Regions from separate parts of the Homo sapiens genome. Here region 1 is linked to region 2. The links come from fine-mapping of genetic effects on gene expression. Tissue or cell type: cerebellar hemisphere. Region 2 holds a variant in brackets; the other region holds the start of a gene. All regions are shown on one strand. Distances are between the middles of the regions.

The links. PIP is the estimated chance that this variant, and not a neighbour inherited with it, causes the effect.
Region 1: CDH12 starts here. The variant in region 2 is the best candidate, but not a certain one, in a credible set for the expression of CDH12 in cerebellar hemisphere (GTEx, PIP 0.80).

Annotation. Positions count from the first base shown.
Region 1 is chr5:22,849,995-22,856,100 of GRCh38, reverse strand. It overlaps CDH12 (cadherin 12), which reads left to right and starts at 2,757. Exons shown (of 15, transcript NM_004061.5): 1 at 2,757-3,043.
Region 2 is chr5:23,099,112-23,105,217 of GRCh38, reverse strand. No RefSeq gene overlaps it. Among named protein-coding and RNA genes, the nearest start is that of CDH12, 250 kb to the right of the region's middle. The variant G/A (reference allele first, on the strand shown) is at 3,406.

The DNA of each region.
Region 1 (6,106 bases), 250 kb after region 2:
GAATTTTCTTTTGTTTATTGCCCTTTGATCTCTTCCTCGCCAACAGAGTAATCTTATAGCATAATTTTGATGATGTCATACCTTTTCTAAACAGCCTTTATGGCTTCCATTGCTAATAAATTAAGTCTGATGTCCTTAGCCTTAATTATTTGTCCTAATGTTTTAATATCCATTTTTATCTTTCCAGTCTTTATTTTCTTAAACAAATTCTATTGATTTATTTTATTTTCCGAAAAGTAATTTTTGAGTTTCCAGGCAAATGCCTTGTCCCAGTCATTACATTACAAAACAAGCTTTAATGCTTGTTTTCCTACCTCTGCTTACATTAATTGTAACTTGTTTTAGTCAGGAGAGATTAGATACTACTAGTCTAGTAACAAAAAAATCCCCAAATCTCAGTGGTGTAGAAATAAAAGCTATTTTATCCTTCCATGCTACATGTCCATCTAGGGACAAATAAGACTCCAATGTTCTCTTCTTTCAACAACCCATGCTGATAGAGTGCGCACAAATTTATATTTGTTCTTCAATATTCTGTTTGGAAATGGCAATATTCTTTTCCATTCATGTTTCATACTAAGATGCCAAGACTGGGGAGAAGTGCATCCCTCCTACAGGGAGAGCAGCAAAAATCTGCAAAACACACACACCAATGTAATTTATTACATGATCATTTTCAATCTCTTTCAAATCTCAATGATTTCATTAATTTGATCTTCTCCACTCCACCTTCAGATGCTCTTTTTTCTTCAACTTTTGCCGTTTGTACTAATAATATTGCACATCTTACAATGCGCTAGGAGGGGTCAAAACATTTATTTTTTAAATGACAGATAGTAAACATTTTAGGATTCATATTGTAAGTCTCTGTGGCTACTACTTGACTCTGCCATTGTAATGCGAAAGCGGTCATGGACAATACATAAAGAAATCGGCACCACTGGGTTTCAATAAGTCTTTATTTACAAAAGCAGGTGGCTGGTCTTCTGTTGTAATTTGTAGACCCCTTAGCTAGAGCAATGACTGTCCAACCTGAATGTGCATTGGAAGCATCTGGAGGGATATTAAAACATAGATCGCAGTGTCCCATTCTCTTAAAGTTTCTGATTTGATAGGCTTGGGGAAGGGCTTGAGAACTTGTCTTTTCAACAAGTTCCAGGTGATGTTTTTGCTATTGGTCTGGGGACCACACATTGAGAACTCTCGACCTGTAGTACAAAGACAATGTTCTGTAGTCAATGACCTATTATTTGTGATCAAAAAAGGAATTTAAATAAATGAAAAATATACTATACAATTGAGGGAAAAGCAATGTTTATGATTCATTTTTTCATCAGCATATTCTTTTCTTCACAAAATCCAAGTGACCAAACTTAGCCAGAGACTGCCCTGAATGAAATATTTATTGGCTACATAAATGAGTTACAATAAAGTTAGCATTCACCTTGTTATAGTGACACAGCATACAGTGTGTAAATATTACATTTTTCCGTGCCTCCCTTCACGTGATAGACAGGTCACGAAATTGTTTTGTTTGTAAAGTCTCCCCAAGCCATTTCAATTTGTCACGATACACAAAGCTTGGCTACACCACCTACATCAACACATTTGTATTCAGTGAAACAAAAAGATTTCAGACAGTCCCAATAATTTTATTCTTTTTCAACACTAGCATTGAAAAGACATTGTTATTTGTGTACAGTCCTCCTGTAGGGAGACATATTTTTAAAACTGTATTGAGACTCTGTACTCTTGAGATTTTTTATAGAACAAAATTAAATGATTATCTGAAATATTGTGGCATTCTTGATGTCTGAATAATAAAATGACTTAGAGTCTTAGAAAATACACGATTCTTGGTGAATATATTTAAGCAAATGTTTATTCAATAGTTAGCACTTTAATAGTGAAACACAAAGAAAGATAATCATGGTTAAAGAATGCAAAGTTGTTTTGTGGCTTTTGGAGGAATAGGTTTTCAACAATAACACTTTTCATTGTAATATTTTATTGCCATTATAATATTCTATAAAGTTTTAGGTAATTATTAATAAATTCTCTCATATAAAGAGAAATTAACATTAATTTTTAAAATCTTACAATATTTAAACATGACAAAATTAAAACAGACCAGACTAATGTATATAGTCTTAGCAATCTTGAGTTCTTCATAGACTCTGAACCAAGTTAAATCAGCCTAGAAACAAGTAAGTGAATTAGGAGAAATTGCTTGAGCATGGTTATTGTCACCAATAAGCATCTGATTCTCGTTTAGACAATTAAACATTGAGACAGCTTCCAGGTAAACGTAATTAATTGTCTTGATTCACAAAAAAGACTCAAGCGACTTAGTGGAGGAAAGACTAATAGAACCCAAGATTTTTTCCTCCCAGGTGACAGTTCTCTGATATGCAATAGATCTCAAGCATTTAAAAAGCAAAGCTTCGGGTGCTAACCCAGGTGCTATCACTTTCTCAGCGCCTAATCTTCACCCGCTGCTAGGCTCGTTTAATGAGTCTTCTGAGAGCTAAGGAGTCCTCGGATTCATTCAAAGCATTCTACAATGAACGCTAGGGGGGAAAAAGAACAAACAAAATACATTTCAAATATAGGATTCAATTACTTTTCACTACTCAATGATGTGTCAAAGGCACGCTGTGTTTTGTTTTGAGGGCGGGGAGATGACAGGAGGGAATCCTGGGCCCCCATTGGCTCGCCGCTCGCCGCTGCAGTTGAGCTCCAGCCGCTCCGAGAGCATTATTGATCTGAAGGGTAAATGTGGAGGGAGCCACAGAGAGGGGTCCAGGCTTTTCTGAGAAGAGAGGCAGCCTCTTCCAGGAAGAAAGTGGTGTCTACTGGCTGCCCGGCCTGGAGAACCTTCTTTGAATGAAAACGGACAAAATGCAAAGCAGTGTGTTGGCACAGTGATTTGGAAAGGGGAAACAGAAGAGAAGGGTCTCACCTTCCGCGCAAGGCTGAGCTGTTGGCACCCTGCTGCGGCCGTCGGTGCTGCTGCTCCTGCAGCTGCCTTTTCTGCCATCAGGTAAGGCTTCCGTTTTTGATTGGGATTGCACCGCGTGTGTGTGATCGCTTCAGGGTGCATGCACAGAAATTCATACATGATTAATAAAGTGATGCCTAGCGTAGTGAGAAGCTGAACGAAGCTGCACACAGATCTGGCAGCTGAATTAGGAGCTTGTGCGTGGTTTTGCTTTGGGAAACTTCGGTAAGTTCTAAACAAGTCTCTGGTCCTCAGACCGTGAGAGGTTACGTGAAAAGAGGAAGGAAAGAAATGTTTTAACCTCAAATGCATCTTAGCATGGCTAAATTTTCAAATGAAAATAAGTAGGTGTGCTAGATGTCCAACTAGTTATTTTATAAATGGCTTTATAGATATCTGATTTTTACAACAAAATAATGAATGCTTTATTTTCAAAGAGCTTCCAGAGATGCCGACCCCCCTCACTCATTTCTCCACTGACGCTGAAATTTATGAACTTCATTCTTCATTTGAAAAATACCACTGTAAAACCATTTAAATGTTTTAATGGCCTGCCTCTCATGGTACAGCCATTTGAGTTTCCTACCACAAAACTAATCTGGGACAAATGAAAGAGATAGATTACCAGATCTGCTGTGGGTTATATAATATGCATTTCCAAATTATTTTAAGGTTATTGATCATTTGGTGATACATTTAACAAGGAGGAAATATGTGTGATATAGGACATAATGGCAAATCATTTTTCAAAAAAGACCTTCAGCATTTTATAAGTATTTTCTTATGTTTTTAACATCATTATTTGTTTTTTGCTACATCGGGACCACAGTGTATTTAGAACCTCTGTACTTCAGAGTACCTGATATCTCTTATACACATTTCTCTGTACTCTCTGGAGAGGGAACTGACATACTTCTGGCTGATTCTGCGACCATTTCATGATTCTCAATTTCTCATCGAGTATTTTGAAGCTCATTCACAAACTGCTCAGCTAGAAAATTACCTTACATACTGAGGGGGAAAAATTCAAATAGAGTAGATTCTGAAAATGTGTTTACAGTTTTAAATTACACTATACATGACCAAAACAGGAAAAATGCAACCATGCCAAGCAGGTATTAGTTTGCTTGATCTTCACTGTATACCTGAGCAGTTGTAAGGTTATAAAATAATATCCAGACACACAGCTGTCAAGAAATACTGAACCTCATCATTCAGTGGCAGCGCCTCATCATTAAATTATCCTAGACAATTTAAAATATCATCTTATATATTTTTATTATTATGTCAACAGGAGAATTCAACCGAGTAAGTTTTTATTATAAATAATTCCATGATTCTAGCAGAATGTCTCTTCAGAATTGAAAGGCAGATGGTTACTTTGCCCAAACCATGAACAGGTGATTGACGAATTGTTTTGGAGTGGTTGAGTGGATAGCCACATGCAAAACAGGGGCTTCCCTTTAACTAATTTAACTGATACATCGAGTTATTCAGCAACAATATTTAGAAACTGTCTCTCCACCTTCTATGAAAACTACTGAAGTAAAAAGAGGTTTTCAATTAAGTTGAAAATCGAATTCTAGAACATAACATATTTTTCTCTTAATAACTCTTACTTCAGAGACCAGTTTCCAAGATTAGCCCTGGCATTGTTAATCCCCTTCCCCATTAAAAAAATGTTTTTGATTTTCTGTGTTGTTCAGTTAATCTCTGCTTGCTGTGTTCTTAACTTCTACTGTGGTGTGCCATTTCCAAGCAGTAGGGGGAAGTTTTTAAGCCACGAATGCTTTTTTATTTTCTACTCAAACTCACTCCTCTCACTGATCTGCTTAGTGATGTGATCATTTTAGATAATTCCTACAAAAAAGAGAAAGCTGCATTATTGTTGGGGGGAGGGGGAGGGAGTGTGAGTCATTTCTTCCACACACGGAATGATATGTATTAAGTTCTTACTACAGTACAAACAGTGTTTAGTTTATGGGGAAGAAAATTTCTCTTAATGCCTCATGTGACGTACTTACACCTCATATAACTCTGTCCTTTGAGGATGGAGCATAAAACTGATCTCCTTAAATTGAGCATCTTTTGAACCTGATATTTTGGCAGAGCCTATTTCATGTAACAGTCTGGGATATAGGTTGAAATCAATCCTTTATCATTATGAGATTAATAAGGATATATGTCACTCTTGCCTCTTAAAATGCATTGTGATGAACATCAAATCAGTCTTGCCATGATAGGAGGATTCATAGAGTGATGGCTGTCTTTAAAAGTGAGCCATGTTTTCATGTAAAAATATAAAATCTAAGGGCTTGGGTAATAAAATGACCTACTAGCAGACTCTGTTGTAAATTTCTTCCTACTTCCAAAGGGAAAGAGTGATTACAGATGTCTCATTTAAAGTAAGATATTATCCTGTTCATCTTCTAGCAAATTATTGCTGTTTTAAAAGTAATTATGTCAGAAATTATCATGTGATCATTACATCAATAGAGAACATTTTGCTTATAATCTAGTACCAATTGATATTCCTATTTGTGTTAAATTATAGGTGGAAAATATTTATCCTTCCTGTTTAACAAATATTGCATTTTATTTTTATGAATAGGCTTAAATAGTACCCAAAAATACATTTAATTGTTAAATAAATGAAAATGTATTATTTTTACTGGGAGCTTTTTATTTTGCTAATACTGAATAACTGAACAATTTAAACTCAGAGCTTTTAAAAGCCTTTTAACTTTCAGCTTTAAGACAGTTGCAGCTTTTTCCTGACTTACTATGCTAGGAGGGTAATATATCATAACCAAACTTTAAAAGGAAAATGTGTGTGTGTGAATGTGTACTATGCTGCCTGTATTGAATATCAATAGTAGTTACTCAAAGTTGTTTTTAAGCATCTCATCATAAGATGATTAATAAAATGGAGTAAATAACTTTTTTACAACATATTAAGTGAGAGTTATGACTGTTCTAAAATTACAGATGAACTCTACATAATGTTATTCTACGTTTTGTGAGATTATAGATAAATGCTTTGAATTCAATTATTCAATTACTCAATTATTAATTATCACTTCATTTAGTAAGCACCTGTTAAAT
Region 2 (6,106 bases):
AGAGCTTGTCCTCAGGGTACATGCAATTGCACAGCAGTTCTGTTTCTGGTGTGGGTGGCATTACTCTCAGTGGCAATGGCCAGGTGGCTTTCAGGCTCTGAACAGTACACATTTTTGCTCCTGTTGTCCCAAGACCAGCCTACTACCTGTACTACACTGCCATTTTCCAAGGCATAGGACACTGTGCAGCTTAGAGCACTGGGAACCCTGCAAGACTTCTGGGTTCAATTGACATCCCACCACTGAAGCCCTTTGGGTGGATGTGGAGGGATATCCTATGGGGCTCCAGGGATATGGAGTTTCAGGAACTGTTGAGCCCCAGGGCAGGATGCTGTCTTGTCAGGGCTTCGTTCTCAAAATGGTACCATGTTCCAACTGCTTGGGTCTCAGAAGATGCGCGGGACCCATCATGATCTCCCTCCAAAGCAATGATGTTTTACGGACTCCAGGTAGCTCCCAGACTGGTCTCAGGGCTCACAGGAATCAAAAGCTTCTCCTGTGGCTAGGATTGTGGGAATATGGACGGCTGGGGATCTCTCACTTACCTTTTCTCCACATGGCAAGCCTCTTCAGGGTCCCAGGTGATCCCAGGTAGGCAGGGTGCCTCACTTCCCTCTCCTTCTATTCCTCAGGTTTTTCCTGGGAATATCATTATATTATTGATATCATTATAGAATATCATTATATCTTGTAGCTGCTGTTTTCAAAGTGTGATTATCTATTTGCTATTTTTGTTCTTCTCTGTGGAGGAGGCTAATGTCAGATGACTCTAGTCAGTCATCATCCTGAAGCCCCCTCTCTCACTGACTTTTTAACAGCAACAATATTAGGATTTATTATTACTACCATTGTAAAATAAAAATTTTGAAATTTACAGAGGATAACTTTCCCAGTTGGCACAATTAGTAAGTGGTAGAATCAGGATGCAAATTGATATCTACATAATATAAGATGATTGCGTACATATTTTAATTCGAGAGAAAATTTTTATTATTTATAGAATCCTGAATTAACTGAACCCGGTTACTTTGTGTTTGCTACCTAAGGATCCAGTTGTCTATCTGTAAATCTATTAATCTGTCTAGCTACCTATCATCTATAAATCTATCATTACTGGAGGTTAGGTTCCCTGCAAGCTGATTCTGAGACTTAGATTAGCAGGCAGAGTATTTATTACTGTACACTTTTAGGATCAAATCCCTGGAAGAAAAAGGAAAGAAGCAGGGCTGATTAGAGAAAGACGTTTGGGTGAAAAGAAGGTTCAATGAAAAACTAGCTGTACATGGGGAGCTCTCAAGTTTCAGTGGATCTTCCTAAGTGTCCAAGTATGGTCAAAAAATTATATTTTTATTGTCCTTCATAGCCAGTCCCAGGGTGGAGGCTTCCAGGGGAGCATATGTGACCTTTTTTTTAACCAAGTTAATTTGGAAGAGTGCTGACAGCTGAGGGCTCTCTGCCAACAATACTCCTATCAGCCATTGGAAATAGACCCTCAGCCTGAAGGAGGAACTGAGCTGTGAATCATAACATCCACCATACTCACATACATAAAGGTAACTCTATACAATTACACTTTATAGAATTACGCACATATAACACACAACATATATTTTAGGGGTAGATGCACCAAAAACCAGGTTAAAGCACATTCTTATGAAATAAGCCTAAAGCTTTGCATTTTATTCATAATATAGAATATACACTTCATTGAGAAAATAATAGTAGAGAAAAAACACAAAAGCATTTCTTATCTTAGGGGTCAATGAGATATGTCTATTTATTAACAATTTTAAGGCAGAAGTGAAGAATTTAGACTTGTCACTACATCTGTCCAGTAAAGCTAAATGCATTCTGTGGAACTGAGAAAAACTGAATTCAGCTTCAGGGGCTAAGAAAAGTTTATCTAAATGGGTAGATTATACATTAAAACTTCACATATGGTTAATTATATATTGGCCTTGTTTTTCTACAGAAACCTGACTAAAACAGATTTTGGTGCTGAGAGTGGTTGTACAGATTTTTAAATTGTCTCTGTGGTTTCTGGATTTGGCTGTCTAATATAATTGGCTTTTAAGATGCCAATAACTATTTGTAGTAGTGAAGGAAGCATTCTGGCAATAGAGATACTAGAGATACACAAAATATCTACATTGAATACTCTTTTTTTTTTTTTTACTGGATCTCACTTTATTGCCCAGGCTAGAGTACAGTGGTGTGATCTCAGTTCACTGCAAGCTCCATCTCCTGGGTTCAAGAGACCCTCCTTCCTCAGCTTCCTGAATAGCTGGGACTACAGGCACACATCACCATACTCGGCTATTTTTGTTTGTTTGTTTGTTTGTTTGTTTTCAGGAGAGATGGGGTTTTGTCATGTTGCCTGGACTGGTACATTGGATATTCTTAACCAGCGCTAATAAGATACAAGGAACCAAATGACCGTGTTTATGACATTGTTGAATATTTTTGGAAAACTAATAAATCTAACAAGATTCGTTGGTTGCTCCTAATGTTGCCTGAATAAGTGGTTAAAAAAAAAAGGGAGGACCTTGGGGAATTAAATTTCCTGCTTAAGTGCCATATTAATGACCTGAAGGCATCTTTGTGTGCCCTGAAAGACATTCCAATATCCTGTAGCAAAGGGGCTGAGATTGTTGAAAATCAAACACTTAATCTCATCTTATGACTGGCTGAATTAACAAGTTGAACTCCTACCTTTAGAGTAGACATCTTACACAACAACTGCTGTTAAAGTTAGGGCATTAATAGGGAAGGTATGAGATTTTAAAATTTGGAATGTGGATATGTGGAAAGACCCTGAACTTTGGCATATAGAACCCTTAAATTCTGATGACTTCTTTGACAGTGGAAGAAGCCTCTCCACCAAAGTTGCCTCCTCACCCCCAGTGCAAACAACTTTCTGGCCTGTGGCAACAGCGTCTTCACCAGTGTCTGAAAGAATTAGCTCGCATTGCCTGAGGAAACTATAATGATGTTTCCTGAGGCAGTTGCCATGTAAGTAAATGTTAGTTCTCCTCAGGACCCACCCCATCCTCCTCGGAAATCTAAGCAAAATGTCTGGAAATAGACATTGAGGGTGTGAGAAAATGGTGGAAGGAAAATAAAGTTGAATCAGGCTGAATTATTGATATGTGCTCACAAAGCAAAGATTCTGCGTTTATTTATTTATATTTATTTTATTAATTTTTTAAAAATTTTGTTTCAGAGGGTACATGTACAGATTTGCTATGTGGCTAAATTGTGTGACTCTGAGGTTTGGGGTACAAATGATACCATCACCCAGATAGTGAACATAGTACCCAATAGGTAGATTTTCAGCCTTTGCCCCTTCCCAACGTCCCCTCTCTAGAAGTCCCCAGCGTCTATTTTTCCCATTTTTATTTCCAT[G/A]TGTACTCAGTGGTTAGTTCTCACTCATAAGTGAGAACATGAGTATTTGGTTTTCTGTTCTTACATTAGTTTGCGTAGGATATTGACCTCCAGATGCATCCATGTTGCTTCAAAGAACATGATTTCATTCTTTTTTATGGTTGTATAGTATTCCATGGTGTATCAAAACCACAGTGAGATACTATCTCACACCAGTCGGAATGACTATTATCAAAAAGTCAAAAAGAAAAAAAAACAGATGTTTGAGATATTGTGGAGAAAAGAGAATGGTTATACACTCTTGGTGGAATTTTAAATTAATTCAGCCACAGTGGAAAGAAGTTTGGAGATTTCTCAAATAACTTAAAACAGAACTACCATTTTACTCAGCAATCATTCTACTAAAAGGATACATGCACTAGTATGATCATCACAGCACTATTCACAATAGCAGAGACTCTGCATTTAATGTTGCAATTTTGAGCTTCAGGAAAGCTCTGACAATTTATTTGGTTACTTGAAATATAAACCATATATGGCCCACAGTGAGTAAATCAGAAATGCTGGATCTGCCTTGGTTTGATGTACAGGAATGAATTTGAAAGTTAGAGATATTTATCTACACTGGGAAGGGCCAAAAGACCTTTCACCACAACTGTGAGGAATATATTTGTGAGGTGAGGCTGAAAGTATCCTTGAAAGCTCTGTGATAGCTCTTCTCTGTAGAGCAGAACTTACAGTGAAAAATTTGGTTACTGAATTGGGAAACCTAAATACAGTGGTAGTAATTGGATCCTTGGGGGGCAGGGGCCACGTAGGGCAATGTGTACATGGTGACTACACTGAATAGGAGATCAAAGTAGCAATCAGAATAGTCTGATTTACGCAGACTTGTGACATTGGCTACTTGATGGTGGTGTTTCTAGAAGTGAAATAGACAGAAATCTTACTAAATCTTACTTAATCTTTGTAAGCAGAAAAGTTTTAGGTCAAGTGAACAAAAGCTTAGCCTATATTTGCACCCACAAAAGACTAAAGAAAAGAAACTAGAGAGAGAGAGAGAGAGAGAATCATGGACTCCAAATTAAATCCTAGACTTGAGTCAGTTTACACACCCTGAACCCCTTGAATGAAGAAGTCAGGTTTTCTCGAAGAAGGACCTGATACACTACTGAAAATGCATATTGTTACTCACTCTTTCAGCCTTTCTCAAAGAGACCTAAAACCCTTTACGAGGATAACCATAAATTTGGAAAAAGGCAATAATCAGAACTTTTGGGAACTACTGACACTGTCTCTGAACTGACACTAATTCCAGGAGAACCAAAACACCATTGTGTTCCACCAGTCAGAGTAGGACTTTCTGGCTGCTAGACGACTAATAGAATTTGAGCTTAGGTCCATCTCAGAGTGGGCTCAATAACTTTGGTTATTTCCCCAGGTGGGAAATGCGGAGTTGGAATACACAGATTCAGCAGCTGGCAGTCACCACATTGGTTCCTTGACCTATTGGATGAGGGCTCTTATGGTGAGAAAAGCCAGGTGAAAACTACTAGAATTATTATTACCTAGGAAACTAGGTTCTCCTGAAGGCTGGACAGTCATTGCTCTGTATCCACAGGGAATTACTTCCAGGATTCCCTATGGATATCAGAATCAGAGGATGTTCAAGTCTCTTACGTAAAATGGTGTAGTAATTGCATATAACCTAGAACATCCTCTCAGATATTCTGAATCATCTGCAGGTTCCTTATAAAATCTAATACAATGTCAATGTTATATAAGTAGTTGTCATACTGTATCATTTTTACTTAATATTATTTGTTATTGTATTTTTACTTAAAAAATAATTTTGATTGGCAGCTGGTTGAAATCTGATGATGCAGAACTTGCAGATATGGAGGGCAAACTGTAATTGCTCTAAATCATCATCTGAAATGTGGTACTATTTCTCTCATAACCAGGATTCTTGAGTCAAGAAATCAAAAGGTAAAAATGGGAATGGCATCACTCATTATTACCTATAGCAATCCACTAGCAAAATTTTATTTCCTGTTTCTACAACTTTAAGTTCTTCAGTCCTAGGTGTCTTAGTTCTAGAGGGAGGAATGTTTCCATCAAAACACACAACAATGGTTCCATTAAACTGAAAGTTATGACCATCACCCGGCCACTTTGGTTCCTCATGCATCTGAGTCAACAGGCATATAAGGGAGTCACAGTGCTGGCTGGAGTTATTGATCCTGACCACCGTGGGGAAATTAGACTACTACTCCACAAGGGAAGCAAGGAAGAGTATTCTGAAACATAGGAAATCTTTGAGGATGGCTCTTAATGTCCTGCTCATGTCTTGTGATTAAGTCAGAAAAATTCCAAGAACCTATTCCAGGAAGAAGGACTACTAATAGCCCAGACTCTTCAAGAATGGTAGTTTGGCGGTAGTTTACCACCAGGTAAAGAAACATAACCAGCTGAGGTAAAGAAAATATAGAGTGGATAGTGGAAGAGAGGTCTAAATATCAGTTATGACCACATGACCTGTTACAGAAATGAAGACTGTAATTGTCATGAATATTTCATCTTTCTTTTGTTATAAGTATATTTGTGTATGAAAATATATACAAGATAGTTTTGCTGTCTTCACTCTCTTATTCCCCTACATGTAACATATGATGTATTAACTTTACATCAGCATTATGGATATCATTGGCTTGTTCCCAAT